Linked DNA regions of Homo sapiens: region 1 is linked to region 2. The links come from fine-mapping of genetic effects on gene expression. A gene starts in region 2. The other region holds a variant in brackets. All regions are shown on one strand. Distances are from middle to middle.

Region 1 (11,081 bases), 20 kb after region 2:
TATTTATTTATTTATTTTTTGAGACAAGGTCTTGTTCTGTTGCTCCAGGCTGGAGTGCAATGGCATGATCATGGCTCACAGCAGCCTTCATCTCCCAGTCTTAAGCATTCCTCCTACCTCGGCCTCTTGAGTAGCTGGGGCACGTGCTACTACACCTGGCTAATTTTTTTGGCAGGGTGTGGTGGGTAGAGATGGGGCCTTACTGTGGTGCCTAGGGTGGTTTTGAACTCCTGGGCTCAAGCAACCCTTCCACCTAGGCCTCCTAAAATGAATAAATACTATTTTTGGTGGCAACATGTTATAAACAAATCAGGAAAAGGTGATGTGCAGACATGGTGGTAAACTTGGCTGCTATGATCTGAATTAGTGGTAGATAAGTAGAGGCTAGAGGTCTTCGAGATGGTTACATTGGTATAGGAAAATAGGTGTAGGAGAGCCAAGAAATATAAATGTATTTCCTGTTTCTTTCACTTAGGTTGACTACTGGCAAAATTGCTGGAGCTGGCCTTTTGTTTGTTGGTGGAGGTATTGGTGGCACTATCCTATATGCCAAATGGGATTCCCATTTCCGGGAAAGTGTAGAGAAAACCATACCTTACTCAGACAAACTCTTCGAGATGGTTCTTGGTCCTGCAGCTTATAATGTTCCATTGCCAAAGAAATCGGTAAGAGTTTTAAACAATATTTCAGTTTATCCAATGAAATACTTTAAAAGCAAGTTGTTTTCATGTTGAAAATACAGTTGTCTTTTGGTATTCTTGAAGGAGAGGTTCAGGACCTCCTGTGGATACAAAAATCCCATGGATGCTCAAGTCTCAGATATAAAATGTTACAGTGTTTGCATATAACCTATGTATACCCTCCCATATACTTTAAATCATCTCTAGATTAGATGTAATATCTAATACATTGTAAATGCTGTCTAAATTTTCATTATACTGTGTTATTTAGGGAATGATGACAAGAAAGAAAAGTCTGTCCATGTTTAGTACAGATGCAGTTTGTTTTTGTTTGTTTTTGTTTTTGTTTTTGTTTTGAGACAGAGTTTCACCCTTGTTAACCAGGCTGGAGTATAGTGGTATGATCTCGCCTCACCGCAACCTCCGCCTCCGGGTTCAAGCGATTCTCCTGCCTCAGCCTCCCGAGTAGCTGGGATTACAGGCAACTGCCACCATGCCCGGCTAATTGTTTGTATTTTTAGTAGAGATGGGGTTCACCATGTTGGCCAGACTGGTCTCAAACTCCTGACCTCAGGTGATCTGCCCGCCTCAGCCTCCCAAAGTGTTGGGATTACAGGCATGAGCCACCATGCCTGGCCTCAGGTGCAATTTTTTAAAAAATATACTTTTTCAATCTGTGGTTGGTTGAATCTATGGATGTAGAACCTACAGATATGGAGAGCCAGTTGTGTTTTGTCTGTATGCAGTGCAACTTGCCAGATGTATGTATGTTAGTTTTCTTTTTTTTTTTCCAAGACGGAGTCTTGCTCTGTTGCCCAGGCTGGAGCACAGTGATGTGATCTCGGCTCACTGCAACTTCCGCCTCCTGGGTTCAAGCGATTCTCCTGCCTCAGCCTTCCAAGTAGCTGGGATTATAGGCGGGCGCCACCACACCCGGCTAATTTTTTGTATTTTTAGTAGGGACGGGGTTTTACCATGTTGTCCAGGCTGGTCTTGAACTCCTGACCTGTGGTCCGCCTGCCTCGGCCCCCCAAAGTGCTGGGATTACAGGTGTGAGATACCATGCCTGGCCAGTTTTTTTTTTTCTTTTTTTTTTTTTTGAGATGGAGTCTTGCTGTGTCACGCAGGCTGGAATGCAGTGGCCTGATCTCAGCTCACTGCAAGTTCCGCCTCCCGGGTTCACGCCATTCTCCTGCCTCAGCCTCCTGAGTAGCTGGGCCTACAGGCGCTCACCACCACGCCTGGCTAATTTTTTGTATTTTTTTTAGTAGAGACGGGGTTTCACTGTGTTAGCCAGGATGATCTCGATCTCCTGACCTCGTGATCCACCTGCCTCTGCCTCCCAAAGTGCTGGGATTACAGGCTTGAGCCACCGCTCCTGGCCGCCAGTTTCCTTTAAATTGAACTAATAGTAGCTGGTACAGATGGATAATTATTCTTTTGGAGTCCCATAAGTGCTCTCAGTACATATCACATAGAAAATAACTGTGCTGCACACAAGGGTAAATGGAGGAGATACTTGGGTAGAGGTAACCATGGTTTCCCTATGGACTGAGGGGGACATCTATATATTATCCCATACTGTTGCAGCTATCAAGCTCTTACTTAGAACACTATAAAAACAAGTGCAGAATGGTCATGACATAAAACCACGTATTATGGTTAGTAATGGTTCCTTTTAGACCATAACACAAAGTCACAGAATTTTCATCTAGATGCTGATTAGTTGACAGGATATCTTGTACTATTCCTGTAACTTTGTGTGTATTCCTTTTTTTCTCACCAGCCTTAAAATTTTTTTCTTTTTTTTTTCTTTTGAGACAGAGTCTCGTTCTGTCGCCCAGGCTGGACTGCAGTGGCGCGATCTCGGATCACTGCAACTTCTGCCTCCTGGGTTCTGGCAATTCTGCTTCAGCCTCCCAAGTAGCTGGGACTACAGGCGTGCACCACCATGCCTAGCTAATTTTTGCATTTTTTAGTAGAGATGGGGTTTCACCATGTTGGCCAGGCTGGTCTTAAACTCCTGACCTCAGGTGATCCGCCCACCTCAGCCTCCCAAAGTGCTGGGATTACAGGCGTGAGCCACTGCGCCCAGCCTAAAAAAATTTTTAAACTCTAATCTTAAATGTTTCTTCATTCACACACAGCTTCTTGTAAAAAAAAAAAAAAGTCTGTAAAAGAGCATGGATTTTTGGCTCTTTGGTATTGGGCATTTCTTTACGCTAGGAGGCTGGACATAGCTGATCAGTTTATTCTTAGAAACTGGGTGGACTTACTGTCCAGTATCTAACATGATCTAGAGACCCATCCTATAGCAAAAGTTAACGTTTGGAAAAATAAATGTCATCCAACTTCCTCCCTGTAACCCACCCCAACCATACTTTTTCACAATGTTTTTGACTAGTCTTCTACATCATTTATTCTTCCCTATGGACTTTAAAATGTCCATATTGGCTGAGGGAGATAATTTTGCAGCTTCATAAGTCAAGGAGCAGAACCCTGTGGATTTATTCTAAAATCTTGAATCTATTTTAAGCTGCATGACCCAGGAAAAAATAGCTGGAAGCTGTTCTAGGAGCATGGAGTAAGGTTGAAAAATTCAGAGAAGTGTTCTTTTCTCAGTTGATGTGACTTCAGATTTCATTCTTTGTAGATGAATCCTTTATCTCTCCAAATAGCCTTGGCCTCTCCTCACTCCACTTTAGCTACCTTGGAGAACATTTCTAGTTAATAACTCAGCATGTTTGTACTAAACCACCTCCACACTTACACTGCTCCTTATTTGCTTTTTTGGATTAAAGATAGTACCAAGTTGTCAGGTGTAGCTAGGCCAGAATTCGTAGATTCTTCACAGGTTGCTCATATTTTGTTAGCTATCCTATCTTGTTTAATCTTCTTGCATTACCACTATCCGTACCCCTATTCTGACCTTTATCACTTCATATCCAAATTGTCTCCTGAACTAGGCCTGTTGCTCTCCATGCGCACACAGTCTTTCCCATCTTCCTCCCAGTCTCTACCCACCTAGATCTCTCCTCCTAACAGAATCTGGGTCATCCTTATATTAATACCAGAGAATCTTCTAAAAGAAGTGCTATGATATTTTCATGATAACACCTATTAATGTACTTCCAGATATTTTGTATTGTTTAAAAGATGGAAGACCACAGGATGTAAAAACTAGAGAAATCTTTCTTACCTTCTGAATAAGTATGAAGCCAGGAGTGCTTAAATGTCAGCCTAGGAACTGGCCATTGGGCTCCTTTATTTCTGTAGTTTGTGGTCTTTGCTAGCTTTTAAGTTGACATTCAATACCCTTGGCAATCTGGCACTTGTTTACCTTTGCAGCCTTATCTCTGGGTCCTGCACATAAGCCCTTAGCTGTACACCAGTTGCCCTTCATTACAAATATGTCTTTGCTTTCCATTTATTCATTTATTCAACCAATGTTAATCAAATGATTATTATGCTGCAGGCACTGTTCCAAGGGCCATGCTTAAAGATAGAACTCATCTAAGATCCCTTCCATTTGTACAGCTTTTTTTCAGGATGGTCTCCTACCCAGAATGACTTCCTTTCCTTCGCTTATTAATGTTCTCTTCAGGGGCTGCATCCTTCACTGTACAGATCTAAGTTAATTTTCTCACCTCTGAATTACAATAGCAGTTAGTGTTTCTATTTTTTTTTTTTTTACCATTTACTCAAGCACTCTCTACTGTTAAACATCGTGTCAACTTGTTGCTGTGCATTTTATTTCATAGTAACCTTTTTAGTGGCAACATGATTTGTTATAACATTGTCTCTATATTTACTGTCCATGCATAAAATCTTTTTGATGGACATGGAATAACACCTGCCTAAATGGTTACAACTGTTACATTCCTGGATAGAACTTCATATCATAAAAATGTCATTTCTCTCAAATATATATGTATGTCATTAAAGATAGTACCAAGATAGTACCAAATATATATTAAGATAGTACCAAATTACATTAAGATAGTACCAAATATATATGACATACATATATATATATTTGAGAGAAATGTATATGTATATATTAGAGAGAAATGATGTTTTTATGATGTGTCTATATACACAAATCTAGTAAGAATTTGAATGAATTTTTCTAGATGGTGAGGAACCAGATAATACAGTTTTAACATTTATATGGAGGAATTAATGATGTACAAGACTACTCAAGAACATTTTGAAAAAGGGATGAGGAGGGGTGCTTTTCTAGATAGACTTTTTTATACTGCTACTTTAATAAAATAAGGTTGGGACACAGGAAAAGAAATTAGAGGAATAAAACAACTGAATTTGGAAATAGATCACACACAAACTTTAATTATGAGAATGTGAATCACTAGAACCTTAAGTGAAAGTGATCTGTTAACATCTGTTAAAAATATACAACCCCTTTGACCCAACAATTCCTCTTCTGAAAACTATCCCATAGATATTACACTACGGTGCTTTTCATTTAAATGGACAGGGATGGATGTTCATTGCTTTGTTTGTAGCAGCAAAGCAAAACAAAACAGGAAACAATTTGAATGACTATAGAGGAGAAGTTGACCAAATTATGGGAAATCGTTATATGAGGATATTATGCAACTAAACAGAATTTCTTGACCTGAAAGAGAATGTCCATGATATAGTGTTAAATAAAAAAAGAGCAAGTTACAAGGTAATTTGTATAATATAACCCTATTTTGGTTTGTTTAAGGAAGTGAAACATTGTTTATGTGTATATACGAGAGCTTTTGCTCAGGAGTAGAAGGATAGATTCCAGGCTATTAGCAGTGGCTACCTAAGAGAGTGGAAAGGGAAAGGAGCAGTGAAGAGGCAAGTTAAAGCCACTGATATATCTTGGCATTATTTTGCTTGTTACAGTAAACAGTCTTCATCATTCAAAAATAATATTTTAATGAAAATGGAAATAATTCTGGTTTCTGGTAGTGACTAAGTTCAGAACCACCCTGTTGTGTTTAAGTAGTCATGTTAGGGATATCTGAGTCCTACTGCCAAGTTAGGGCAAAAAGTGGAATAACATAAGTGGAAATAAAAATAAAAGTAATTTTCTCTGGCACATATCTGGCAGCCCTCTTAAATGAATAGTGTCTTAAACTTAGAGCAGGCAATAATTGGGAAAGGGGAAGGCAAGCCTTGCTTACAAATTGATCATATATCTTACTGTGCAATTGCATGAATCCTGGAGATCAAAGAAACAAAATTCATTTGTATTTTCACTCAGAGCCTTTAATAATCATTTGCTTCTAACTGAATGTATACAGAAGACATCATAGTTTGATTTAGAAAGGAAATGATAATAGTCTTCTTAATACTGTGTAAGTACAAGCAATGGTGTTTAATGAGAAGATCATATGTCATGGACTTTATTGGTCACCCTAATAGAAACCTTTGTTACTATTAAAATATGGGCTGGTCATTTGGAATGAAATTTTTGAACTGCACTTTTCTAGTAATGGTGGTTTCTCTCAACTATGTTTAATAAAATACATATGTTACAAAGTGTTGATAACTTTATGTTAAAAGCCTGAAAGACTTGGCATTTGAAATACTGCAAATCACTGTACCTTTTTAAAAAACAGTAGTATATCTGAAATGTTAAATGTTTTTTATTTCCAAGATTCAGTCGGGTCCACTAAAAATCTCTAGTGTATCAGAAGTAATGAAAGAATCTAAACAGCCTGCCTCACAACTCCAAAAACAAAAGGGAGATACTCCAGCTTCAGCAACAGGTACTTATATTTTGAACCATCTTTTTAAAATTATAGGTAAATCTCTTCACCAATTCTTTTTTTTTTTTTGAGATGGAGTTTCGCTCTTGTTGCCTAGGCTGGAGTGCAGTGGCACAATCTCGGCTCACCGCAGCCTCCACCTCCCAGGTTCAAGCGATTCTCCTGCCTCAGACTCCTGAGTAGCTGGGATTACAGGCATGTGCCAGCACGCCCAGCTAATTTTCTATTTTTAGTAGAGGCGGAGTTTCTCCATGTTGGTCAGGCTGGTCTCAAACTCCCGCTCTCAGGTGATCTGCCCGCCTCGGCCTCCCAAAGTGCTGGGATTACAGGCGTGAGCCACCATGCCCGGCCTCTTCACCAATTCTTTATCCTCTCTTCTTTCTTAGTGATGAAAGTGTCTTGCTCTAGTCCCTGCAGATATTTTTTGACTTCAGAAACTACCAGTCACCCCACCCTAATTTACAGCACTTGCCTGTTGAACTCTAACCTGTTCAGTATACATTTGAACTTCTTATGTTTCTCCTTTGTTGTGTCTGTCCTTGATTAAATCACCTGACTTTCTTTAATTCAGCAGAAATTTACTGTCTTTTCTGTGCTAGACATTCTTGTAAGTACTGGGGAAACAGCCATGAACAAAAACAGTTAAAAAATTTTTTCAGCTAATATTTCTTGATTGGGTG[C/A]GGAGAGGAAATAAACAAGTAAAACGTATAGGATGTCAGACATTGTGGGAGGGAATACTGCAGTTTTAAATGGAATGTGTAAGGAATACCTTACCTGGAAGGGGTTATCTGAGCAAAGATTAGAAAGAGATAAGGGGGGTAAGTCATGTAAAAGGGTGGTGGGGAAAAGCATCCCAGGCAGCAGGATTAGCTGGTGTAGAGGCTTGATATATTCAAACAAAGGGCAAATGAGGCTAGAGTGAATTGAGTAAGGGGAGAACAGGAGCAAATGAGGTCAGAGAGGGAGCAAAAAGTTTATTGTGGCAGTCCTTGGAAGCCATTGTAAGAATTTTATTTTAGGCCAGGTGCATGGGCTCATGCCTGTAATCCCGCACTTTGGGAAACCAAGGCGGGAGGATCACCTAAGCCCAGGAGTTTGAAAGTAGCCTGGGCAACTTAGCAAGATCCTGTTTCTATAAAAAATTAAAAATTAGCTGGGGATGGCGGTGCATGCCTGCAGTCCCAGCACTCGGGAGGGAGGACCACTTGAGCCCAGGAGGTTGAGGCTGCAGTGAGCTATGATTGCACCCCTACACTCCAGCCTGGGTGACAGGGCAAGACTCTGTCTCAAACAAAAAAAAACATTGTTTCATATGCTGGGTGGGATGGGAAGAGAATGCTGAGCCAGGGGATTGATAATTGACTGTTACTTTAAAACCAAGGCCGGGCACAGTGGCTCACACCTGTAATCCCAGCACTTTGGGAGGCCGAGGAGGGAGGATCACTTGAGCCTAGCAGTTTGAGACCAGCCTGGGCAAGAGAGGGGAGACCCTGTCTCTACAAAAAAATGTAAAAATCAGCCAGGTGTGGTGGTATACACGTATAGTCCCAGCTGTGTGCCAGAGGCTGAGGTGGGAGTATTGCTTGTTCCTGGGAGGTCGAGGTTGCAGTGAGCCATGATAGTGCCACTATTCTCCAGCCTGGGCAACAGAGTGAGACCTTGTCTCAAAAAAAAAAAAAAAAAAAAAAAATATACTACACACACAAAAAATTGATTGAGTGATTGATAGAGATGGGATCTTGCTGTGTTGGCCAGGTTGGTCTTGGCCTCCCAAAGTGTGCAAAAAATATATATATATATATGTATTTTAACTCAGTTCTGTTCTTGATCACTGTGACCTTTCATCTTTTTGTTTAAAACTGTAATCTTTTTCCTGCTCACACGTCTTCTACCACTCTTCAAAGCAATTAAAAAATATTCTTTGTTTAGTTGCTTTCTTTTGTCTGTCTTCATCATTAACAGGCTTTTTCCTTTGTTACTCTTTTTCCATGTGTAAATGTCCCCTTCTTGTGTGTTAATATTATTATTATAAGCCTTGCCTGGAATAATGATGGTTAAAATGCAGGTGGATGCAGACAAGACTTCTTTCTTTTGTTCGTTCCCAACCATTGTCCATTTTGTGTGAGTTTATGTATGCAGTGGACAGTGCCCCTGTTTGTGTGTTATTCAAACATGTGGCAGTACAAATATTTGTGTCTCTAAGGAGTCAGATGTGAAGTGGGTGGTGATGGTGGTAGTAAATTTCTGTGTGTTTCTCTGTTAACCCAGGAAAGTATAAATACCATGAGTAACATATATTTATAGCACCTACAGAAGCGGCTCAAATTATTTCTGCAGCAGGTGATACCCTGTCGGTCCCAGCCCCTGCAGTTCAGCCTGAGGAATCTTTAAAAACTGATCACCCTGAAATTGGTGAAGGAAAACCCACACCTGCACTTTCAGGTAATTTAATTATTTCTATTTGTTCTTTTATACATGATACACTCATCAGAACTATTTAATGCCTAGGCAACACGTAGACACTAAGTATACATTTACACTAGGTTTAGGTCTTCAGAGTTTCTTAGGAAATTTTTAAAATTTAAATGTCCGAATGTATCTTTTTAAACAAGAAGATTAAAGCCTGATTCCTATTTCTTCATTTTGGAATCATTAAGAGTAATGATATGGTTTTAGAATTCTTAACACAAAAATGCCCTGCATTGATATAACTGGCCAGTACAAACGATGCTTTTTTTATATCCCTGTTAGCTATTAAAATTCTATGCTGAAATTTGATTTCCTCTTATTTACTTTTGCTGCAAGAAGAAGCATCCTCATCTTCTATAAGGGAGCGACCACCTGAAGAAGTTGCAGCTCGCCTTGCACAACAGGAAAAACAAGAACAAGTTAAAATTGAGTGTATGTAAACCAGACAGCTTCTTAAGGATTTTGGGTCATCTCCCAGTTGCTCTCTTCTTAAACTATCAGCACAAGTTTGTCATCTATCACCTAGTTGTGGTTTCTTTTGTTGCTGCGGTTGTTTTTTAGTGGCATTGCTTTATTCATCACCTTCATTTCATCTAAACTTCTTTTACCTAAGTGACAAAGGCTATTCTTAGTGTATAGTTGGTGAAAACTCCAAATAATACTAAAGATTATGTTAGCGCTAAAGATTCTTTATACTCTGGGAAACAGAAATTGATTATTTATGTTTTAGCAGCTTGCCTAAAAGTCCTTTATTTATTTTTTTGAGATAGGCTCTTTTCTGTCACCCAGACTGGAGTGCGGTGGCACTGTCATGGCTCACTGCAGCCTCAACCTCCCAGGCCAAAGCCATCCTCCCACCTCAGCCTCCTCTGTAGCTGGGACTACAGGCGTGTACCACCATACCCAGCTAATTTTTTAAAAATTTTTTATAGACACAGGCATCTCACTATGTTGCCTAGACTGGTCTCGTACTCCTGGGCTCAAGTGATCCTCCCACCTTGAACTCCCAAAGTGCTGGGATTACAGGCCTGAGCCCTTGTACCCAGCCCTAAGAGTCTTTTATTAATAATTGTTAATTTATACTTGTAAATAATTGTTTATTAATAATTGTAAATTTATTTGTTGGAGTCAGAATGGCTTACACTGCCTTATCATCTAGCCTCTGGACTCTCTAGTAGTGCTTTTATCTGACACTGGTGGGGCATGGAATGTTCTACACATCGCTGGTTTCCAGCTAACAAGCATATTCCTTTTTAAGTTTCAGTTTTATGGTTTTTTTGTTTGTTTGTTTTTAAGAGATGGGCTCTTACTGTGTTGGTCAGGGTAGTGTTGGACTCTTGGCCTCAAGAAATCCTCCCACCTTGGCCTCCCAAAGTGCTGGGATTACAGGCATGAGCTACCACACCTGGCCAAGTTTTTTTTATCATTATTATTATTTTTGCTGTCCTCGGTAGGTCAGGATTCTTAAATTTTTTGATGGTTTAAAAAAGATAATAGATATTTATCAATTTATTTTTCTGTCTTAAAGCACATGTAACATAATTTTTTGTACTGTGCTATAATATGTTGATGTCTCTGGAGGTCGTGGGATGTAGCTTTTTGCTGGACAGAGAGTTCAGTACTCATGGCAGCTGTTTATAGTTTTTTGATCTCCTTGTCATTTGTTTTGCTCCTGTTTCCCTTGTAATGTGCTGGTTCTGCCCTACCCTGAGGAACCAAGTTTCTTAGAATAGCATAGGTGTCATTCTGTGCCTATGGCATTAGTTTTCCTACTTGGATTTGGATTTTCGTTTTTGATTTTTTGTATTCTTCTGATTGTGTTACAAATATTTGTGAATATTTAATAAATGACTTCTAACTAAGTGAAATATTTCATTTTTCCTACTTCTTTTTTCTTTTAGTCCTGTTTTTTCTTCACTTTTCACTTTTCTCTCTTTATCACTTGGGCACCTTGAAATTAAGTTATAAACGTAAGATGGAGATGTCTGCTGTTCCAGCTGTTCTTTTCCTTGCCTGGTTCCTCTCATCTTTCATTTTGGGCAAAGTGAAAATTTTCAGAATTTTATCTGTCACCTCTTAATTCCCCCTCAAACTTGACTTTAAAAATATACACATATGCATTTGCATGTGAAATATTTATCAAGGATCAAAGGACAGTGACTAA
Region 2 (17,025 bases):
GAGGCCGAGGCAGGCAGATCACGAGGAGATCAGGAGGTCAAGACCATCTTGGCTAACACAGTGAAACCCCGTCTCTACTAAAAATACAAAAAAAAATTAGCTGGGCATGGTGGCAGGTGCCTGTAGTCCCAGCTACTTGGGAGGCTGAAGCAGGAGAATGGCGTGAACCTGGGAGGCAGAGCTTGCAGTGAGCTGAGATTGTGCCACTGCACTCCACCTTGAGCGACAGAGCGGGACTCCGTCTCAAAAAAAAAAAAAAAAAGAATTTCCCACTTGTGGTGTCATGTTGGTACTCAAAAAGTTTCAGATTAAAGATACCTAACCTGTATATTAATATGTGGCCATCAGTGATAACAGGGCCAGGTGTGGTAGCTCACCCCTGTAACCCCAACACTTTGGGAGGCCCCGGCGGATCACCTGAGGTCAGGAGTTTGCGACCAGCTTGGCCAACATGTGAAACCCCGTCTCTACTAAAAATAGAAATATTAGCTGGGCAGAGTGACGCGCGCCTGTAGTCCCAGCTACTCGGAGGCTGAGGTAGGAGAACTGCTTGAACTCAGGAGGCAGAGGTTGCAGTGAGCCGAGATCTTGCCACTGCACTCCAGGAGACAGAAGGAGACTCTGTCTCCACAAAAGAAAAAGAGATAACAATTTGCAACTGAAAAGGGTAGCATAAACATTGGTGCAGAAAACTGATGAGAGAGCCCTTACATAGGGCCTTGGAAATCAAATAAGTTAAATCGCAAAGAACTGAAAAGATGTGCAGATGTAATAAGGCAGGAGGTAATCTTTGGAAGATTAAGTGCATTGGAGGACTGTAGACAAGAAAATGTTCCAATTTTCACACGTCATCAGATTTTGGTATCTCTTGGTTAAAAAATTAAAACCTATGAAATTCTTTTGTTCTCAATTTTTATGAAGATCCTGAGGCTGCATAAGACATATTTATCAATTTTCCCAAAAAGCAAGCTGGGAACAATGGCTTGTTAATGTATTTGTGAAGACACAGAGTATCAGAACTCCAAGTGATCTTAGTAAGAGAGAAAAACAGATCAAAACCAACAAGATGAAATCAGGAATAAATACACTGAAGTTAGAAAAAATGGTTACGGGAACAACAGGAACTGGGATCTTGGTTGAGAGCAGTTCATGGGAAAATATGTGGGGAGGCTCTATCTACTGCGCCTTCTGGTGGATCAATCATGTGATTAAGCCTGTGAGGGAAACCTAACAGTCTAGCTTTGTTAACAAAAGTGCAGTACATCAAGGAAAGTAACTAATTTCCTTCAGTCCTCTGCCCCGTCTGGGCATTTTCATACAGACTAGTCTACTCTAAACACACTGTTGTATAGAGAATACAGATGTTTTCACAAAAGAGGTAACGCAAAACCAGAGTTTTGACAGAGTACGAAGAGACAGAGGGAATAGGACGTACAAAGGTGACGATGTACATTTGGGGAATTACAATGGCCCTATGTGGCATGAATCAAAGGAATGAATGGGGGACATGAACTGCACTGGATGGGAGTGGAGGAGACTGTGACAGTATCGAAACCAGGAGTCTTCAAGATTTCTGATCCTATGTTTCCTAAAAGAATTTTGAAAAACTACCCTTTCACAAATTCTTAATATCTAAAATATCAAATAGTTTAAATTGTTAAAAAGGCTATAATTTCCAGCATATTTAAAATACTGACATTTTAAAATAAGCTGTCACATCACTCTTTAAATTGTTTTCAGTAGAATCTAAATTAATAGTAAGTTGATAACTACCTACATCATCTATTTAAAAATTACAAGAACTATAAATTCAAGTAGATGAAAAACAACTTTTCGTCAAAGGGCACTCCAAAATAATGTAAAAAAGACAAGCCTGAGTGGGAGAAGCTAAAGGACACACACAAATGAAAAACAAAAACAAAACAAAAAATACTCTAAATAAATAAGACAAACAATCCAATAGGAAAATGGGCAAAATATTTAAGTGGATATTTCATAAAGGAAATTCAAAAGGCCAATAAAAATGTGAAACACACTATAGCTTGTTATTAATCAGAGAAATGCTTATTTAAATCTCAATGAGATACCATTACAAAGCCACCAGATTAACAAAAATTTGTAGGTCTGACAATATCTATTGACAATATCAATATCAGGTGTTGGTGAGGATGTGGGGCCTCAACAGTTTGGCAATATCAGGCAATGCTGAATATATACATATTCTCTGACCAGGCAATTCCACAGCGATTTTCACACATACCCACATCCTCAGAAACAATTGGACTCATGCGCCAGGATGAGATCAATCAGCTTTGTACATAATTGCCCCAAACTGGAAATGGAGAATTGTGGCACAGTCATATAATATTATACAGCAGGCCGGGCAGGGTGGCTCACACCCGTAATCCCAGCACTTTGGGAGGTCGAGGCGGGCGGATCACCTGAGGTCAGGAGTTCCAGACTAGCCTGACCAACATGGAGAAACCCCAACTCTACTAAAAATACAAAATTAGCTGGGCGTGGTGGCGCATGCCTGTAATCCCAGCTACTCCAAGGGAATCACTTAAACCTGGGAGGAGGAGGTTGCAGTGAGCCCAGATCGTGCCATTGCACTCCAGCCTGGGCAACAAGAGAGAAACTCCGTCTCAAAAAAAAAAAAAGAATTATATAGCAATGAGAAAGCATTACAGCTACGCAAAATGAATGAATGAATCTCACAATGTAAAAGAAGATACTAAAGCGTATATACTGTATGAACCAATTCATGTGAAGTTCAAAACCAGGCAAAACTATGTTCTTGAGATGCACATATGGATGCTAAAACTACTATAGGAAAAATAGGCAACCTAATAGTAACTATAAAAATGAGAACAGTGTTTATATCTGGGGGGGAAGTAGAGAATTTTGATACATAGGGGAGAGGAGGCTTCTGGTAGTGCACTGTTTTGACCTGAGTGTTAAACAGGTGTTTGCTTTAGAACTGTTAAATCATTCATGCATACTATATAAAATTTTCTTCATATGTATTATATTTCGCGAACACAAAAAATACTCCACATAAAAAAAGCTTTTCTCTAACGGTAAAATTTACATCGCTGCATTTTCTTGACTGATCTCGTATATTCTCCCACAAAATGTTATCCTAACAATATATTTTGTGTGAAAGTAACTTACTGAGCATCCTATGGTATTTGGATGATTTTTAACTTTTTGCAAAAAGTACTTAACGTCACGGCAACTTAATTTAGTCGCCTTTACTTCTGCTATCTCTCAGTCAAGAAGTCCTCATACCAGCCCTTGTGCCGGGGGCTGTAGTTAAAAATTAAATTAGCCTTCAAGCTTACCATGTGTCAGGCACTGCCCAAAACGCTTTACGTGCATTATCTCATTTAATCCCCAGGTAGGTGGTTATGACCCCCATTTTAGAGGTGTAGAATCTTAAGTTAGGAGACATTAATTCTCAAGGTTAAAGGTCGTGAATGGCAGGTCGTAGCCTCTAAATCAGAAAGTTAGGTGAGACTTTTTGGTTTCCCTCGCCCCCTCCGTTCCAGTTTCTCTGGCTTCTTTTCTAGGGAAAAAAAGCTGGTAAGGAAGCGGCAAATGCGTGACACACAGGCCCGCGTGAGTCCGAGTCGGGGGACTTGGTACGGGCTGCCGGTCACACCGCCCCAGAGAAAATTGGGCGCAACCTTCTTAACTTAAATAATGACCCTTTTTGCTTGTTAACCTCCAGTCTAAACGCCCATTCCATCCCGCACCAGTTTCCCCTTCTGTGAAGGCATGCATGGAGTATGTCGCTCTCCACTGACCTGAAGCTGCTCTCACTGCACCAGCAAAGGCAGAGGCAGCCATCTTCACCTTCGCCTACGGCGGCCGCTTTGGGTTTAAAAGCACAAGAGCAAAAGAGAATGAAGGGAAAGCAAGGAGGCGGAGTCAAGGAAGAGGAAAAGAACAAAGTTGTCCACTCAACATTTATTCAATGTCATCTGCCGGGTTCCGTTCTTCGCCGCTGTAAAACGACTGCCTATAGAAGGTTCTACAAAATTTCTTATTAAAAAAAATTCTTGGGGCCGGGCACGGTGGCTCACGCCTGTAATCCCAGCACTTTGGGAGGCCGCGGCGGGCGGATCACAAGGTCAGGAGTTCGAGACCAGCCTGGCCAACATGATGAAACCCCCGTCTGTACTAAAAATACAAAAAGTAGCCGGGCTTGGGAGGCTGAGGCAGGAGAATCGCTTGAAACCGGAAGGCGGAGGTTGCAGTGAGCAGAGATCGTGCCACTGAACTCCAGTCTGGGCGAAAGAGCGAAACTCCATCTCAAAAAAAAAAAAAAAATTCTTGCCGGGCGCGGTGGCTCACGCCTGTAATCCCAGCACTTTGGGCGGCCGAGGCGGGCAGATCACGAGGTCAGGAGATTGAGACCATCCTGGCTAACAGGGTGAAACCCCGTCTCTACTAAGGGGTACAAAAAATTAGCCGGGCGTGGTGGCGCGCGCCTGTAGTTCCAGCTATTCGGGAGGCTGAGGCAGGAGAATCGCTTGAACTTGGGAGGCGGTTGTTGCAGCAAGCCAAGATTGAGCCACCGCACTCCAGCCTGGGGTACAGAGCAAGATATAGGGTGTATTACCTTGGAACACTATTGTTGCCAACTTGATCTCCCACCTATGGTGGCCACTTTGAGTCCAAAAACAGGCACATACGCTAGACAAGTATATTGAAACATTCATAAAAGCTCTTTGAATTGGCAACGGGAGTCATTGCGCACTTTTTTTTTTTTTTGAGACTAGGTCTTGGTCTGTTGCGAAGGCTTGAGTGCAGTGGTGCGATCACAGCTCACTGCAGCCTCGACCTCCTAGGCTCAAGCAATCCTCCCACCTAAGCCTCCTGAGTAGCTGAGACTACAGGCACACACCTGGCTAATTTTTAAATTTTTTGTAGAGACCTAGGTCTCACTATGTTGCCCAGGGTGGTCTCAATTATTTGGTATGGAATCAAACAGGTCTCCCACCTTGGCCTCCCAAAGTGCTGGGATTACAGGTGTGAGCCACTGAGCCTGGCCTCACTGCACATTTTTGAACAAGTGAGTGACTTGATTTAAATTTTGTTTTTTAGAGACAGGGTCTGAGTGCAGTGGTGCAATCACTGCAGCCTGGAATTCCTGAGCTCAAGGGATCCTCCCACCACAGCCTTCCAAGTAGCTGGCACCACAGGCATGCACAATCATCCCCTGCTAATTTAAAAAAATTGTTTATAGAGATGAGGTTTCACTTTTTTTTTTTTTTTTTTTTTTTTTTTTTTTTTTGGAGACAGACTCTCGCTCTGTTGCCCAGGCTGGAGTGCAGTGGTGCGATCTTGGCTCTCTGCAAGCTCCGCCTCCCGGGTTCACACCATTCTCCGCCTCAGCCTCCCAAGTAGCTGGGACTACAGGTGCCTGCCACCACACCCAGCTAATTTTTTGTATTATTATTATTTTTTTTAGTAGAGACGGGGTTTCACCGTGTTAGCCAGGATGGTCTCGATCTCCCGACCTCATGATCCGCCCGCCTCGGCCTCCCAAAGTGCTGGGAGAGGTCTCACTCTTTTGCTCAGGCAGGTCTCAAACTCCTGGGCTCAAGTGATCCTCCCACCTCAGTCTGCCAAAATGCCGGGATATGAGCCACCACACCCAGCCCCTGGTAACAAATTTTTTTTTTTTGAGACGGAGTTTCGCTTTGTCCCCCAGGCTGGAGTGCAGTGGTGTGATCTTGGCTCACTGCAACCTCTGCTTCCCAGGTTCAAGTGATTCTCCTTCTTCAGCTTCCCACATAGCTGGGATTACAGGCGCGCACCACCAAGCCTAGCTAATTTTTGTATTTTTAGTAGAGACGGGGTTTCACCATGTTGGCCAGGCTGGTCTCGAATTCCTGACCTCAGGTGATCCGCCCGCGTCAGCCTCCCAAAGTGCTGGGATTACAGGTGTGAGCCACAGCGCCTGGCCTGCCTGATAACATTTTAAAGCAAAAATATTGACAACTTCCAAGTGGAGAGTGAGGACTCTCCACGTAGGTTATGAGGGGTTGGGAGGCTAATTTTGAGGTTTGAGATCTTGAAGCTAGAGAGGTTGCTAATGATGTTCAGGCGCAAGTTGTGGCTGTGACGTACATGACTGAAGCAGGATGAAAACATTCACTGGCATTGACAAATTCAAAGCCAAGGGTGTTAGAAAAGTCATCACACGGGCACCACATGACTGAAGCAGGATGAAAGCGTTCACTGGCATTAAGAAGTTCAAAGACAAGGGTGTTAGAAAAGTCATCACACCGGCACCACTGGGCATGACAGCAGTGGGCAGGGAGGCAGCAATTCAATTGCTAAAATTACTAAAGAAAACGGGAGACTGCTCTGGAAGCTAAGTGAAAGAGATATGAAACATATGTAATTACTGTAGTCCCCTAAAAACCATAGAACATAGAACATATACAAACATAACTATTGCTTTCAGATAATTTTCAAGTCCATCTCTCCATGCTACAAGTCATAGCGCAGTCTACCTCTAGAGAGAATACATATTGTAATAAATTACCCAGTTAAGACTTGGAATACTTTGCAAATCCAATAGAAGATAGAAAAGTTAGTTTCCACGATATTGCAATAAGATGCTAATAGTATTAATACGAACATATTAATTCTGGAGTATACATGGAGTATTAATACCATGCTTAATATTTAACGTGTTTTATTTTGATTACAGAATCAATGGAATACTTTTGTTTTTTGAGACAGAGTTTCGCTCTTGTTGCCCAGGCTGGAGTGCAATGGCGTGATCTCGGCTCACTGCAACCTCCGCCTCCCGGGCTCAAGCAATTCTCCTGCCTCAGCCTCCCGAGTAGCTGGGATTACAGGCACCCGCCACCATGCCCAGCTAATTTTTTGTATTTTTAGTAAAGACGGGGTTTCACTATTTTGGCCAGGCTGGTCTCGAATTCCTGACCTCAGGCGATCCACCCGCCTTGGCCTCCCAAAGTGCTGGGATTACAGGCGTGAGTCATAGCTCCTGGCCCTACTTTTCTTTTTAAATTTTTTGTTTGTTTATTTTTCTATATAGAGACGAGGTCTCACTGTGTTGCCCAGCCTGGTATCGAACCTCTGGGCTCAAGCGATCCTCCCGCTTCGGCCTCCCGAAGTACTGGGATTACAAGCGTGAGCCACCGCGCCCTGCCCAGTGGAATACTTTCAACGGTGCTTCTGCATTGACTTCCCATCTTCCAACCCATCCACAAACTGCAGCCAAAATGATGTTACTACAGTAACAACTTGGAGAAAGCAGTGTGGCTTAATCTGGAAGGAGCAGAAGCTGTGGAGTCCAAAGGACCCGTGTTCCTATCCTTGTTGTGCCACTTGACACGTTTAGCACAAGGGTCCCCACAGTGTTAGTTCACCGTCTCCAGCAATCACTATGACTCCCTGGAGGGCTGTCAAACGAAACAAAGGCGCAAACTGAGACAATTCCATTGTTTACGTAACTTTCGCCAAATCGGCTCCTTCCTACGAAATATCCAGCTCATAGAGCAGGCTGAGATGCTTTGTTGCTTTAATTCTCTTTAAGAGTCACAGCTGTCCATTTTCCACGTGCGGCTGAAGAATGGATTTCAGAGCGCTCTCCCTCCGGCAGTGTTCACCTAGTAACCCCTTCCGGATAAGGACCTGCAGCCCGGGCGCGACCCGGAAAGGGAATCCGCCCTTTTCGCCTCCTTCGCGCCAATCGCCTGGAGTTGGCGTTTCCGCAGCCGGGACACAGCCCACCCTCTAAGAGCCGCGGAGTCGGGGACGGTAGAAGGGGCCGCGCGTGCGCAGTGGCGTCCGCTGTGCTTCCGGTGCGCCGGGCGCGGACGCGGGCACGCACACACGCAAGCACGCCTCCACTTAACTCGCGCCGCCGCGGCAGCTCGAGTCCACCAGCAGCGCCGTCCGCTTGACCGAGATGCTGCGGGCCTGTCAGTTATCGGGTGTGACCGCCGCCGCCCAGGTGAGCACTGGGGCTCCCGGAGGCGCGTGAGGAGGCTGAACTAGAACCGTCAGCGAAAAACGGGGGAGCCTTGGTCGCTGCCTAGCCTCCAGGACAAAGGCGAGCCTCAGGGCCACCCTCGTCGGGAGAGGCCCGGGCGGGCAGCTAGGCAGCCACCAGGGAGTTCGCCGGACTGGGATGACTTGAGGTTATTGCAGCAGCGGGGTGGGGTGTGGAGAGTAGCGGGAGGCGCGGCTTCGTGGGCATGTAGTCCAATCAGGGCCGCGCTGCCCCCGTCCAGGACCAATCCTGGCTGCTGGCGTCTGGGTCGCCGGTTGGGCGCGCGATAGGTTTTCAGTGCTGAAGGTCGACGGGCGAGAACTACAGTTCCCGTCAGGACGAGCGGAGCGGCGGCTTGTTGCATCCTTAATAAGGAGGTGCCTGGACTTCTAGCGAGAGTCCACATTTTAGGGGTCAAGGTTGTAATTATCTGGGAGGGAGTGCCTTTCTTTTCGCAGCTGAGAACACTTCTGAGTTATTCTTAATCCAAACAAAAGCGAAAGATTTTCATTTGTGGAGCTGAAACTCCTGGTCTTCAAGGAAAGACAGGAGTCATGACCTTGTGGCTCATTTCTGAGATTAGGGCAGGGATCTGTGTCTCCAGGCGCTGGGACTACTTTGACATTCAAGGAGCCTAAATACCCAGTTACTTCTAGTTTTGCGTAATTGCCAAAGTTACTTTCTAAAATTGAAAATTAAAAAGCCTGTTTCCACTGCTCATGATTTTCAGGAAGTTGATATTTTGGCAAAATGTAGATAGCAAACCAAGTACTGTGACTCAAGCAGTAATTGAACAGAATCCCTAGGAATAGTGAGTTAGAGATCATAAAAGTCAAGCTTTGTTTTTTCAAGTTCGCTTCTCTTCCTATTTGCTGCTAGGTAACAGAAGCAGCCCCTTCCATAGGAAAGTGGAACGAACCTGTGTTAGTTTTCTATTGCTGCGTAACAAATACCACAAATTTAGCAGCTTAAAACAACACCCATGAATGACCTTACGGGTTCTGTAGGATAGAAGTCTGGGCACGGATGATCTGTGTTCTCCGCTCCAGGTCACATAAGGCTGCAAAGTATTAGCCATGCTGTGGTTCTCATTTGGAGATCAGGGTCCTCTTCCAGGCTCATGCAGTTTGTTGGCAGAATTCAGTCCCTTGCAGTTACAGGACTGAAGTACTTCTTTTCTTGCTGCCTCTTGCCAGCCACTGCTCCCAGCTTCTACAGCCTGCCTACAGTTCCTTGCCTCAAGGCCTCTAGAGGCCATTCATAACATTGATGTTTGCTTTCGTGCAGGCTACCAGGAGCTTGCCTCTCTGACTTCCAAATTTCTTTTACTTTGGTCTTTCCTCTCTAGACCCAGATTTAAAAGGCTTATGTGATTAGACCAGGCCCACCTGGATGACCTCCTTTTCAGTTAATTCAGAGTCAACTTTTTGGGATCCCATTTGGGAATTAAGAAAACTAATTAAAACTTGGTAATAAAAAATGAACCCTTTTATAGCTCTGAATCAAGATGTCTAAGCTTCTTGAAATTGCTGTCTTGTAAAATTCTTTGGTTTATTCTCACCATCTCCTTAATTCTGTAGCATTTGACATTGCTGCTTTATGAGGCTCTTTGTACTTTTGGCTTCTCTCAAGTAATATTTTGGGTCCCATCTCTCTTGTTTTCCTTTACTGAGTCTGCTTCTGCTTTGTACCTCGAAATATACACCTTCTCATCTCTTCCTGTCTCTTTATAGACTCTCTAATTTGAGATTACATCAACTCTCAGAACTTTAATCCCCAAGCAGGTGACTCTCTAGCCTCGTCGTATTTGATTGTATCAACGTATCCAGAATATCTCACTTGTCAAGATCCTTTCCACTTTATTAAACCCCATCTTTCTTTTTTTTTTTTTGGATACGGAGTCTCACTTTGTCACCCAGGCTGGAGTGCAGTGGCACAGTCATGGCTCACTGCAGCCTTGACCTCCTGAGCGCAAGCAATCCTCTTACCTCAGCCTCCTGAGTAGCTGGGACCACAGGCATGTGCCACCATCCCTGGCTAATTTTTTAAAAAATTTTTGTAGAGACGGAGTCTCTCTGTGTTGGCCAGGCTGGTCTCGAACTCCTGGGCTCAAATGATCCTCCCACTTCTGCCTCCCAAAATGCTGGGAATATAGGCACGAGCCACCGTGCCCAGCCAACCCCATCTTCTTAAATGTCTTACTGCTTTTACTGTTCCCTCCTAGAGTCCATTCTTTACTCTAGGAGGGAATAGTAAAAGCAGTAAGACATTTAGTAAAAGGCTTTTTAAAAGGCAAACATGAGGTCATGCTCTTTGGAGACATCGCATCACATTCAAAATAAAATCTAAACTGCTTACCATGGGCCCTTGATCTGACTCTTCTCATATTTCATTTTTCTACTGCCTCACTCAGATTCTCCTGGTAATCTCCAGCATGTGCCTCACTGCCTTTTCATCAGGTGTTTCTTTTGCCCTGAACTCTTCTCACAGGTTTGCTTAACTTATTCCCTTCAGTTAATTTCTCAAATGTCACCTTCCCTTCAGAGAGGGCATCCTGATCCAAAATAGAATTCTGACTACTCTTGCCTTCCTTGTATCACTATATCTTTACCCCATCCTACTTTGTTATACTTTGTAGCTCCTAGCACTACCTGATGTTATAATGTGTATTTATTACACAGTTTCCACCTTTAAAAAGTAAGCTCCACAATGGAACTGTGTCCATATTTACTGCTGTATTTCCAGTATTAACAATAGTCCCTGGCTCCAAGTAGATGCTCAGTGAATGTTTATGACATATATAAATGAAAGAATGAATGTGTTCATGAATTTTTTTTTAATTTAAAAAGATTTTTTAGAGATGGGGTCTCATTATGTTTCCCAGGCTGGTCTTCAGCTTCTGGGCTCAAGTGATATGCCCACCTCGGCCTCCCAAAGTGGAATTTTTCTTAATCTGTGTAAGTGGATGTGACCTCCCTTTAAACATCCCATAGATTTTCAAACCTCTGATTATATATTCAGATTCTCCAGAGAAACAGAAACAATAAGGGTGTGTGTGTGTGTGTAGAGATAGGGTCTCATTCTGTTGCCCAGGCTGGAGTACAGCAGTGTGATCATAACTCATTGCAGTCTCAATCTCCTGGGCTTAAGCGATCCTCCCACCTCACCTCCTGAGTAGCTGGGACTACAGGCTTATGCCACCATGCCCAGCCAATGTTTTGGACTTTTAGTAGAGATGGGATCTCGCAATGTTGTTCCAGCTCATTTTGAACTTCTGGGCTCAAGCAATATCCCCACCTTCTCCTCCCCAAAGTGCTGGGATTACAGGCGTGAGCCATAGTGCCCAGCCTAGGAAGATTTATTATTTATTTATTAATTTTTTTTGAGATGGAGTCTTGCTCTGTCACCCAGGCTGGAGTGCAGTGGCGCCATTTCAGCACACTGCAAGCTCCGCCTCCCGGGTTCATGCCATTCTCCTGCCTCAGCCTCCCAAGTAGCTGGGACTACAGGCGCCTGCCACCACGCCTAATTTTTTTTTTTTTTTTTTTTTTGTATTTTTAGTAGAGACGGGGTTTCACCGTGTTAGCCAGGATAGTCTCGATCTCCTGACCTTGTGATCCCCCCACCTTGGCCTCCCAAAGTGCTGGGATTACAGGCGTGAGCCACCGCGCCTGGCTGAAAGATTTATTGTAAGGACTCTACTCACACAGTTATGGAGACTGGCAAGTCCAGAATCTGCTGTGTGGTTTGGCAGACTGGAGACCTAGGACAGCCAATATTGCAGTTGCAGTCTGCTGGCCAGCAGCCTGGAAACCCAGGAGAGTGGATGGTGCAGTTTCAGTCTGGAGGCAGTCTGCTAGAGAATTGCCTCTTGCTTTTTGTTGTTTTTGAGCCCTCAACTGATTGAATGAAGCCCACCCATGTTATAGGGCAAATTTTTTTTTTTTTTTTTTTGAGATAGGGTCTTGCTCTGTCACCCAGGCTGGAGTGCATTGGTGCAATCTCAGCTCACTACAACCTCCATCCACCAGACTCAAGCCATCCTCCCACCTCAGCCTCCTGAGTAGCTAGGACTGCAGGCATGCACCACCACACCCAGCTAACTTTTGTATTTTTTTTTCTGTAGAGACAGGCTATATTACCCAGGCTGGTCTCAAACTCCTGGGCTCAAGCAATCCACCCGCCTTTGCCTCCCAAAGTGATGGGATTACAGGAGTGAGCCACCATGCCTGGCCACTAGTTCACCAATTAAAATGTTAATCTCATCCAAAAACACAGTCCAAGTTGACACATAAAATGAACCATCACAGATAGTATCTACCTTATTCTTTGCCCAGGCTGGAATGCAGTGGTGCAATCTCGGCTCACTGCAACCTCCGCCTCCTGGGTTCTAGCAATTCTCCTGCCTCAGTCTCTCGAGTAACTGGGACTGCAGGCACGTGCCACTGTGCCCAGCTAATATTTTGTATTTTTAGTAGAGACAGGGTTTCACCATATTAGCCGGGATGGTCTCGATCTCCTGACGTCGTGATCTGCCCGCCTTGGGCTCCCAAAGTGCTGGGATTACAGGCTTAAGTCACTGCACCCGACACAGTATCTGCCTTATTCTTTATGTTTGGGCTTATCATCCTTGCATTCCTTAGATGTGGGTATTCAGTAAATGTGCTTTAGAACTCTGGTCCCTCTGTTTTTGTTTTCTTCTTTTATTCCTCAGACCTAACACCATCTTTCTTCTCTTAGTCCCAATACTGCATCACCAGGCCCAGCCTTTTTGAAGTGGTCATTGAGTTTGGAGGACATGGGCTTTCCGCCTAGCCTAGCCTTCTCTCAAACTACAAACCTGGAAGTGGTCATTTACATATGGAGTAGTCTTTCCTGCTTATAACTTGAAAGAAGAAGAAGAAACATTATTATTCTTGAGGATCAACCGCTCCAGCTTACTTAAGACCAAGTTTGATAACCCAGCTAGTTTAGGATTGAACTTGTGTGTGGACATGAGCTATCATCTTCTAGAATTCCTTCTTTCTGTTAGGATTATGAAACATTATGTTACTCAGTGATAGAGATAGGCAGCCAACCACACGTGCTAGAAAGTAGTTTAGTAGATCATGCGGCCAGGTGTTTGCTTCTACCCATGCTAGAATCCTCTTCATTGTTCCTTTTTTCATATCTCTAGACCAGTAGCCTTCAAACCATTTTGAAATACATCTTACGCCGTAACTTACTACACCGAAGTGATAACATACAAAATATATTCACATATGTGCAGGGAAAACTAAAGTGTCAAGTTCCTGCTTTTGTCATACTGATAAGTATCTGCCATTTCTATAACTAAAGAGCACGTGTTCTCCTAGAATAGAATATGTTTATACTGAAATGTAATGCTGCTTCAATGTAAAATTGTAATGTAAAATGTAAAATTTCAATGTAAAAACTTACTGGATTTTTTTGTGGGATATACTTTTTAACCTTAATGCATGATTCTTATAAACTATTTTAAATTAACAGTAGAAAAAGTTAATTTGTTGTATATCAATCTATATTTCAAATGTAGAACTGCCCATTAACTTATGGGTGCCTTTTTCGTTTGTGTGGGAGGAGTCCTTATGTATGACAAGATCCACAAAAACGTTATCAGTTGACAGCAACCAGCAGTCTGTGGAGGAAACCTGGAACCTCTAGTTAGAGTTCACATGAGGCAGCTCATACTACAGGCTCCATGTCCAGGTTGTCATGCTAGATTGTGGTTTCTTTATGTCTTCACTTTAGTTTGGTAGAGCTAAGGAACAGATGGTCTGTGTAACAGCATTAATCATGGGGCGGAACACTTGAGGTCAGGAGTTCAAGACCAGCCTGGCCAATATGGTGAAACCCCGTCTCTACTAAAAATACAAAAATTAGCCGGGTGTGGTGGCAGGTGCCTGTAATCCCAGCTGCCCGGGAGGCTGAGGCAGGAGAATCTCTTAAACCCAGGAGATGGAGGTTGCAGTGAGCCGAGATCACACCATTGCACTCCAGCCTGGGTGTCACAGCGAGACTCCATCTCAAAAAAAAAAAGAACATTACATGGGAATTATATGTTTCCTCTTTTTTTTAATATCACGTTTCTGCGGGTTAGAAGCAGCAAGGCTAACCTTATAACATATGTCTAGACAGATTGCTTTGAAACAGTGTTGTCCTTTCTATGTCATAGGTCCTTATTAATAAAAAGGAATTCCAGGACAAAAAAGTAGCCAATATTTTGTGTGTTAATGTAGGATATTTAGTTTATGTTAATAGTTTAGTACTTAAGAGAGCTCTGGAGACAGACCTTATGTTTGGCAATGGTTTCTTAACTATAACACCAAAAGCACAAGCAACAAGAGAAACTAAAGATAAATTGGACTTCATTAAAATTTTAAATTTTTGTGCATCAGAGGGATACTTGAGAGTGAAAAGGATGAAAGTATTCTAATGGATACTAGATATTTTGGATACTAGACCCTCATATCTGATGAGGTGTTTCTTTTTAGGTAAGGAACTCCTGCAACTCAGTAACAAAAAAGACTACCCAAATAAAAATACAGGCAAAGGGCCCAGGCTCTGTGGCTCATGCCTGTCATCCCAGCACTTTGGGAAGCTGAGGCAGGCAGAACGCTTGAGCGCAGGAGTTCAAGACTAGCCTGGACAACATGGTGAAACTCTGTCTCTACAAAAAATACAAACATTAGCTGGGTGTGGTGGCATGCACCTGTAGTGTTAGCTACTCGGTAGGCTGAGAGGTGGGAGGATTGCTTGAGCCTGTGAGGTCGAGGCTGCAGTGAACCATGATGGTGCCACAGCACTCCAGTCTCGGTGACAGAGTGAGATGCTGTCTCCACATATATACATATATGTATTTGTGTGCGTGTGTGTGTGCGCGTGTGTGCGTGTATGTGTATGCATGAGCAAAGGACTTGAATAGCCATTCATCCAAAGCAGATATACAGATGGCTAAGAAGCACATGGAAAGATGCTCAACATCCTTTGACACTAGGGAAATGCAAATTAAAACCGTGAGATACTCAGTTCACAACCACTAAGATGGTTATAATAAAAATGGAAAATAACAAATTAGCCGGGCATGGTGGTACACACCTGTAATCCCAGCTACTTGGGAGGCTGAGGCAGGAGAATCACTTGAACCCGGGAGGCGAAGGTTGCAGGGAGCTGAGATTGCGCCATTGCACTCCAGCCTGGGCGACAAGAGCAAAACTCCATCTCAAAACAAAAATGGAAAATAACAAATGTTGGTGAGGGTATAGAGAAATTGGAACCCTCATACATTGCTAGTGGGAATGTAAAATGGTACAGCTGCTGTGAAAAAATAGTTTAGTGGTGTCTCAGTAACTTTTTTTTTTTTTTCTGGAGACAGAGTTTCACTCTTGTTGCCCAGGCTGGAGTGCAGTGGCGCGATCTCGGCTCACCGCAACCTCTACCTCCTGGGTTCAAGGGATTCTCCTGCTTCAGCCTCCCGAGTAGCTGGGATTACAGGCATGCGCCACCACGCCCAGCTAATTTTGTATTTTTACTGGAGACGCGGGGCTTCTCCATGTTGGTCAGGCTGGTCTCGAATTCCCAACCTCAGGTGATCTGCCTGCCTCAGCCTCCCAAAGTGCTGGGATTACAGGCGTGAGCGACTGAGCCTGGCTGTGTCTCAGTAATTTAAACATAGAATTACCATATGACCTTGAAGTTCCCTGCCAAAAGAATAAAAAACAGGTGTTCAAACAAAAACTTTTAGATGAATATTCATAGCAACATTATTCACAATTCACAGCCAAAAGGTGAGGCAACCCAAATGTCCATTAACTGATGACTGGTTAAACAAAATATGGTATATTTACGTGATAAAATATTAGATTCAGCCATAAAAAGGAATGAAGTACAAGCTACATATGTGATACATGTTACAATGTGAATGAATCGTGAAAACATTACACTAAGTGAAAGAAGCTGGACAAAAAGATGTACATTGTGTGATTCCATTTATACAAAATATCTCAAACAGGCAGATTCATAGAAACAGAAAGTACATGGTGGTTGCCAGGGGCCAGAGAGAGAGGAAAATGGGGGATGACTGCTTAATGGATATAGGATTTCCTTTTAGGGTGATGAAAATGTTCTAAGATTAGATAGTGGTGATGGTTGTTGTACAACATCGTGGATGTACTAAATACCGTGGAATTGTACATTTTAAAATGGTTAGAATGGTGAATTTTATGTTAAGGGGATTTTGTCACATAGAGGAAAAAAAAAATACCTGCCACCAGGTATTTGCAGATGGCCGGAAGTATAGAGCCAGAGCTAGATACACACATACACACCCTAAACTTGCAGAGGCTTCCATTGGCCCAAGATAGGAAAATTTGAGCAAAAAGACAGTAATTACAAATGGTTGAAATCCATCAAAAGTGTTTAAATCCATGAATTTAAAAAGATCTGTTCTTATGAGTTACAGCTGCATAACAGGCCACCTTGAGCTTGGGGTAAAATAACAGTATTTATTGCCTTACTCAGTTCTGGAAAATTTTTGCTCAGAGACCCTCATGAAGTTGCAGTCAGATAGTTACTAGGTCTACAGTCATCCCCAAGTCTTCTTTACTCTCATGTGTGGCAGTAAATACTGGCTGCAGCTGACACCTCAGCAGGGACTGTTGGCTGGATCACCCATCTGTGGCATCTTTAAGTGTCTGGACTTCCATACACTTTGGTGGCTGGGTTCCAAGGGCAAGTGTGACAAGAGGCAGAGCTAGGTAGAAGCTGTATCCTTTTTATGTCTTAGTCTCAGGAGTTACAGAGCATCACTTTCACTGCCTTCTATTAGTGAATTAGTAACAAAGGCCTGCCCTTGTTTAAGGGAAGTGTACATAAAACTTATTATTGTTGGGAGAGGGGCACGTTTCTGGAACAGCATGTGGTATAGGAAGTATTGTTGCAGTCAATTTTGGATATTATCCTCA

The links. PIP is the estimated chance that this variant, and not a neighbour inherited with it, causes the effect.
Region 1: its variant is fine-mapped to the expression of IMMT in unexposed skin (GTEx, PIP 0.97).

Annotation. Positions count from the first base shown.
Region 1 is chr2:86,169,017-86,180,097 of GRCh38, reverse strand. IMMT (inner membrane mitochondrial protein) reads left to right here. Exons shown (of 15, transcript NM_006839.3): 3 at 476-665; 4 at 6,337-6,448; 5 at 8,753-8,890; 6 at 9,254-9,349. Among named protein-coding and RNA genes, the nearest start is that of MIR4779, 19 kb to the left of the region's middle. The variant C/A (reference allele first, on the strand shown) is at 7,129.
Region 2 is chr2:86,186,318-86,203,342 of GRCh38, reverse strand. IMMT (inner membrane mitochondrial protein) reads left to right here and starts at 7,881. Exons shown (of 15, transcript NM_006839.3): 1 at 7,881-8,005. The coding sequence starts at 7,961. It overlaps MIR4779 (microRNA 4779), which reads left to right and starts at 10,235; the gene lies at 10,235-10,317. MRPL35 (mitochondrial ribosomal protein L35) reads right to left here and starts at 3,886. Exons shown (of 4, transcript NM_016622.4): 1 at 3,810-3,886. The coding sequence starts at 3,852. RefSeq lists enhancers at 3,798-4,067, 7,891-8,010, 8,031-8,210, 8,331-8,380.